2 linked regions of the Homo sapiens genome follow. The protein of the gene in region 2 interacts with the protein of the main gene of each other region in a pairwise test. Each region holds a gene or a part of one and is shown on either strand. Other genes may lie near its edges. The genes, in order: OLFM2 and ROBO2.

The links.
Region 1: the proteins of ROBO2 (region 2) and OLFM2 interact in a two-hybrid assay, tested with the Homo sapiens proteins (one large-scale study listed by IntAct).

The regions. Positions count from the first base shown.
Region 1 is NC_000019.10:9,853,052-9,856,679, forward strand, and holds the end of OLFM2 (noelin-2 isoform 2 precursor), read right to left. Parts: intron 1,813-3,628; coding exon 1,135-1,812; 3' UTR 667-1,134; downstream 1-666. UniProt on the Homo sapiens protein: Involved in transforming growth factor beta (TGF-beta)-induced smooth muscle differentiation.
Region 2 is NC_000003.12:77,647,772-77,650,784, forward strand, and holds the end of ROBO2 (roundabout homolog 2 isoform 23 precursor), read left to right. Parts: 3' UTR 1-2,193; downstream 2,194-3,013. UniProt on the Homo sapiens protein: Receptor for SLIT2, and probably SLIT1, which are thought to act as molecular guidance cue in cellular migration, including axonal navigation at the ventral midline of the neural tube and projection of axons to different regions during neuronal development.

The sequences.
Region 1 (3,628 bases), on a different chromosome or scaffold from region 2:
AACCCATTAAAAAATTGCCAGACTGGCCGGGCTCAGTGGCTCACGCCTGTAATCCCAGCAGTTTGGAAGGCCGAGGGGAGCGGATCACTTGAGCCCAGGAGTTCAAGACCACCCTGGACAACATGGCAAAACCCCCATCTCTACTAAAAACACAAAAATTAGCCTGGCATGGTGGTGCGTGCCTGTAATCCCAGCTACTCGGAAGGCTCAGGCACGCGAATCGTGTGAACCTGGGAGGTGGAGGTTGCAGTGAGCTGAGATCATGCCACTGCACTCCAGCGTGGGTGACAGAGCAAGACTGTCTCAAAAAAAAAAAAAAGAAAAAAAAAATTCCAGACCTCTTAGTAATGCATCAACAGTGATTGCAGAGTGGCAATCCAGTGACGGGAGAATACTCATTTGAGGCCAGTTTTCATTGCTGTGCTAGAATTCTCGGTTGTTTTGATCAAACTGCTTTTAAACGAATTGCTTTCGATCAAAACAACTTTGGATTGGGTCTCCTCACCCATCTCCCCAAAGGGCTGGCCCTGGGGAACCCCTTCCCCCCAGTTCGCTTAAGCTTGAGTCATGGAATAAGGGGATCCTCACTGGAGATGGGTCTCCAGGCTTGGACTTCGGGGCCACCTCCACCTCTGTCGCCATTGGACACACACAGTCACCGAAGCGTCAAATGTCAAAGGTCCTGTTTATTCCGGCAAACCGGAAAGAAAAAGTGTAAATAAAAAAAGAAACAGATCCATGCACTCAACTCCTGGGGGTGGGGGTGGGGGTGGGAGTGAGGGATGAGGAATGGGTGGGAAGCAAGGAGGGAGGGGTGGAAGGACAGAGAGAGAGAGACAGAGAGAGGCAGAGACGGAAAGAACTGGAGAACCAGAGCCATAAAAAGAAAAAGACATCCATAAAAAGGCAGAAAGAAAGAAGTGGTGTATTAAAAGCAGAGATCAATAAAGGAGAAGAGGGGAAATTGAAAAAATAGACAGAAATACATAGGCAGAGAACAAAAGCCCAGCAAAAAGGCGGGGAGAAAGGGCGTGACAGAGACAGAGAGATCACCCTTGAGGGACACAGGCAGAATGAAAAGGGCCCCCAGCCCCCAGAGGCCCCCCAGGCAGCAGCCCGAGCCACAGCATTGGCTCAGGGGTCCCCAGAGGTGCTGATGACGTGAAACAGGGTGACATTGTAGAGCACCTGGTGGCCGTTGTTCCAGGTATAGAGGGCGCGCTCCCGGGGGTTGTAATCCAGCATCGAGATGTGGGAATACTGGTTGTGGAAGGGCACGTCCGTGTACTCGTAACTGGACGTGTTGGTAAAATAGGCGAAGTAGACCTTGGCCCCAGCCAGGTGGGAGTTGGTCACGTAGAGCACACCGCAGATCATGAAGGCCTCGCCAGCGCTGCGCTTGGGGTAGCCGGTGTCCCAGGACCGCATGACCTCGAGGGTGTGCGGGTCCAGCCGGCTGACCACGATGTTGCCCGCGTTCTGGTTGGTGGTGTACACAGCCCAGAGCCCGCTCTCGTCCACCATGAAGTCCATGTCGGAGAAGCCGCCCCAGGAGTAGGGGAAGGTGTTGTTGTAACCGGCGCCCGGGAGGCTCCTCTGCACCAGCACAGAGCGCGAGCGGAAGTGGTATTTGACCACCACGTTGCTCTGGTACTTGTTATAGAACAGGGAGCCGTTGTACACCACGTGGCCCGTGCCCGCCCACGGCTGGGGCAGCAGGTGCTGGATAAAGTTCTGGCCTTTGATGAAGTCTCCCAGGGTACGGAACTCCAGGACCCGGCGGCCTTTGTAATAGCCATCCATGTACCAGACCTATGGTAGCAGCCGCTGGTCACTGGGGGGAACCACCACCAACGACCCAAGGGTCCCAGCACCAGCTACAGCCATTAGAGTTCAACAGTCACTAAGTGGTCATTAGTCATGGGAACTCTGTTGACCATTCATTACCAATTATGGCCCTAGTGTGACCATGATCATCTCCTGGTGACAGCATTAACCATGGGCAGTGAATTCAAGTGACGTCTTATCACTCAATGGCTGTCCAGTGACCACTAACCACCCAATATCCAATGACCAGGGAATTCCTGGGCCCAGTGAGTCCCCAGGGGCTGCAGTTTCTTGGGGAACTGCATGGCCCCAGTAGGACCCAAATCCCAGTGAGTGCTATTGGTCTTTTTTTTTTTTAAGTAATTTTTTTTTTTTTTTTTGAGATGGAGTCCCTCTCTGTTGCCCAGGCTGGAGTACAGTGGCGTGATCTCAGCTCACTGCAACCTCCGCCTCCCAGGTTCAAGTGATTCTCCTGCCTCAGCCTCCTGAGTAGCTGGGATTACAGGCGCATCCCACCACACCCGGCTAATTTTTGTATTTTTAGTAGAGATGGGGTTTCACCATGTTGGTCAGGCTGGTCTCAAACTCCCGACCTTGTGATCCACTGTCTCAGCCTCCCAAAGTGCTGGGATTACAGGCATGAGCCACCACGCCTGGCCTTTTTTTTTCTTTTGAAACAAAGTCTCACTGTTTTTCCCAGGCTGGCGGGCAGTGGCACAATCACGGCTCACTGCAGCCTCGACCTCCCAGGCTCAAGCAATCCTCTCACCTCAGCCCCCCGGAATAGCAGGGACTACAGGCACAAGTCACCACGCCCAGCTTATTTATTGTATCTTTAGTAGAGACAAGGTCTCGCAATGTTGCCCAGGCTAGTCTCAAACTCCTGAGCTCAAGTGATCTGCCTGCCTCGGCCTCCTAAAGTGCTGGGATTACAGGCGTGAGCCACTGCACCTGGCCACTATTGATCTTAAAACAGACCCTAAGTGGACAATGCTCCATCCCAAAGGACCCAGGGAACTGCAGCCCCTGGGGAGTCACTGGGCCCAGGAATTCCCTGGTCATTGAATATTGGGTGGTTAGTGGTCACTGGACAGCCATTGAATGATAAGACATCACTTGAATTCACTGCCATGGTTAACTAACCCCTGTCACCATGAGGTGACCAGGCGTGTCATCAACATCATTGTTGTCATCATGTTAACTAGCATTTGTTGTTGTTTTTGTTTTGTTTTGTTTTGAGACAGAGTTTCACTCGTGTTGCCCAGGCTGCAGTGCAATGGTGCGATCTTGGCTCACTGCAACCTCTGCCTCCAGGGTTCAAGTGATTCTCCTGCCTCAGCCTCCCGAGTAGCTGGGATTACAGGCATGCACCACCATGTCCGGCTAATTTTGTATTTTTAGTAGAGACAGGGTTTCTCCATGTTGGTCAGGCTGGTCTCGAACTCCCGACCTCAGGTGATCCGCCCACCTCAGCCTCCCAAAGTGCTGGGATTACAGGCATGAGCCACCATGCCCAGCCTCATGGATGGTTCTTGTGTGTCTAAGTGATGGGCAGTCATGACCATGGAAGCTACTAGAAGTCCGAAGGTCACTGAGCAGTGCTTGGTGGAAGAGGTCTCTTGTCCTTGGGAGGGCATTGGTCATTGGGTAGTTACTTGGACGTCAGTAGTCCCTGAGAACTGGTCAGTAGAACTCAGTAACCATTAGCCACTATACAGACACTGGAGGTCAACAGAGTGGGATTCACAAGGCTGCAAAGCCCTTGGTCACTTGGGGGTTACTGGACAGGGAGGTCCAATGG
Region 2 (3,013 bases):
AAAAATATTCAACGTGATTAGGATCAGTTCTAAAATACGGGACCCCTTTGAGTGACAATTCGCACTCCATGCATTATTGGCTCAGTAGCCAATTTTTGTCACGTCGTTATAACAAGGAGATGACATAATTAAACATTTCCATCCTTTCTATTCCCTGAGACTGCATCAGCACAGGCAAGTATAGAATGTAATGTTCTTCATGGGCCCCACCAGCTTTTTGGTGCCATGTAATTTATTTCTTCGCTGAAGAGAAAAAGAATTCTGAGACACAGTTATTAAACCCTTTATCAACTTTCTACCATCAGTGCCTGAATTCTAATGCAGTGTGATTTCTCTGGGACAAAGAGACTGAGGAAGATGAAAAGTTTCTTCAAAGAGTGAATACATACTTATTCACAACTCTAGGATGTGAGGACTTTAAATATCTCTTTATGAAGTTCCCTGCCTAACCTCTTTCTATTTAAAGGCAAACAAATTTCGAAGAGGTTTTGTGTTCCCTCTTTATGTTTCTCTATGACCCAGTTTAGTCTAAAACCTTAGTTCATTACATATACAACACATAGCCTTTGATCCCTGGTAACTGGCAGGTGTTGGTGATTAATAAACCAAGGCTTCAAAGTGAAGTATGTGTGTGCAGATGACTTTTGGAATAACGTGGGCATAGCATCATACCTTCCTGATTGTCTTCAGCATATAAAAATTAACTGTTGTAGTTAAAATTATGTCAGTGCAGAGCTTGTGGTTACTTGGAATGTTCTTTCAGAATAGTCCATGTTGCCTATTAAACCTAGTTTTAAACACATTGGGCAGTCAATTTATGCACCCAAAATATCACCCTCAGGTAGATTGAGGGCAAGATAAAATGCTGTATGTAGCTATACAAAGGAATTCAGAAACATTACTGGAAAGCAAAGCCTTTGTCAGCTTGCTACTGACAAAGTAGTAAAAAGCTACTAATCAGTGTTGAGTCAGATGTCAACAGAAAAATACAAATACCTATGAGAGCCACAGCAGTTTCTCGTTTCATAGCCGATTCAATGAATATGATTAGAAATTCACTGAGCTCACTCTTGCAGGTTTAAATGGAGGCCTGCATAAGGACTGCAAGAGGAAATCTGGGTGGGAGAGAATGTAATCTGATCTTGCACTCATAGGCAATGCTGCAATGCAATCATGTCCAATACAAGCACAGCTTCATTCATAACAGGAAACGTCTTCTTTGGGAAAATAGCTCTATTGGTGCCCAAACTCAGGTATGCCAGTGTATGCAGGTGGAGTCGCCCTACCCCTCTTCCAAACATGTCCTGTGAGATTTTTAAAATAAGATGGGATAGTACAGGGGCATGAAAAGAATTGATTCCTTCACAGGATTTGAATCCAGTTCAAGGGAGAATGTAGAAAATTCAAAACCAACATATAAGGTATCACACAACCAAGAAAAGTAAAACCATTGCAAGTTTACTTGCGTTGAGTACAAAACAGATTTAATGGTGTTCTATGTCATAGTTTAATGCTCTGGGTATTTAAATATGTTTTCAACAGGATTTGAGTTGAAAGTTTGTAATGTGCTTTGATGGAACACCTCTCAATTTCTATTCAATAAACTTATGTAATTGTCCATTGACAATATAATGATAACAGTACCATTGAACTCTAAACTGTGGTTTATCTTCACTACTGGGAAGCAACTGTGCATCAGTATTAAAGATATGCAGAAACATAATATTCACTAATTTGTTCATCTGCTTCTGTATATTGTTTATGGAATTACATGGCAAGAACTGTTCTAAAGCAACATGTCTTTCCACATTATTTTAGAGGTGAAATTACTTTTGTTTTGCTTCTCTATAATGTGTACTTCAAATGAAACACCATACTTTTTTCTAAAAAAAGATGTTCAATTTACTAATTTTTTTAAATCTCATAATTTAAAAAGCATTTGTTGTGATTTTAAAGTGTTGCAAGAAAAGGGATTTTGTGGCCGTGGGTAGACTTTTTATACTTTGTTTTATAGATGGATTTTTTTTAACTGTAGTTTGTTTAAGTCACCAAGCAGCATCCAAAATCTTAATGTGTTTCATTTGATGTTGTTAGATCAGAGAAGAAATTGGCATAAAATCGGTTAATAGTATTGTCAAAGAATTGTGTATTGTGTACTCACTGGGAAAAAATAAAATATATTCACATTTCAAATTTGTAGAAAAGCCATTTATGTAAAACAAACCTGTTTGTAGACATGCTAAAAAAAGACCAGGTAGCCACTTTTAGAACTCTGCATTAATATTTTGTGACTAAATGCATAATCTCAGTTTTCTCACTCAGTTATGGTTTGAATAGTGATAAATAGGAACTGGTGTTGACTTTTAGTAGTGACTAACAGACGCTGATAAAGAATACAGCAAGCATTTGAAATACAGACCCCATTCTATCAGCACTGCTACTTTCCCCATACCATGAAGACCTTTAGATAGATTTAAAACAAATATCTTATTTTTGAAAGTATAAGTAAATATGAAAATTGAGAGAAAATGAATTTTTCTCAATTGCTTTAGAAGAAATAATTATGAATTTCTTTTATTTTGGATGTTTTTATACTGGATGTTGAAAAGTTATCTCAGGGACTGAGTAGAAAAGAAAAATGCCCCATTTTATTATATTTCATAAATATTGCATTCTTTTTCACTGCTAAGTACAACTATAGGCTCAATTTTTTTTTCCAAAAATAAAGAGAGGCAGTTTCTGTATTCTTTAAAATAATAATACTAGTGACAGAAAAAAGGAAAAAGATTATGGTTAAATCCTGAGACACTCATTGAAAAATATTTTTAAAAATACAAGGTTTAGGACAACACATTTTAGAGTTTCATTTAATTTATATTAATAAGGTGAGAATAAAATAATATTACTGTAATGACAAATGATGTTGCATTAATATAATACAGTGACAAAATATAATATATATGATTAAAGACAAAGTATGTCAATATGATAAATGGTAGGACAATTACAAAAA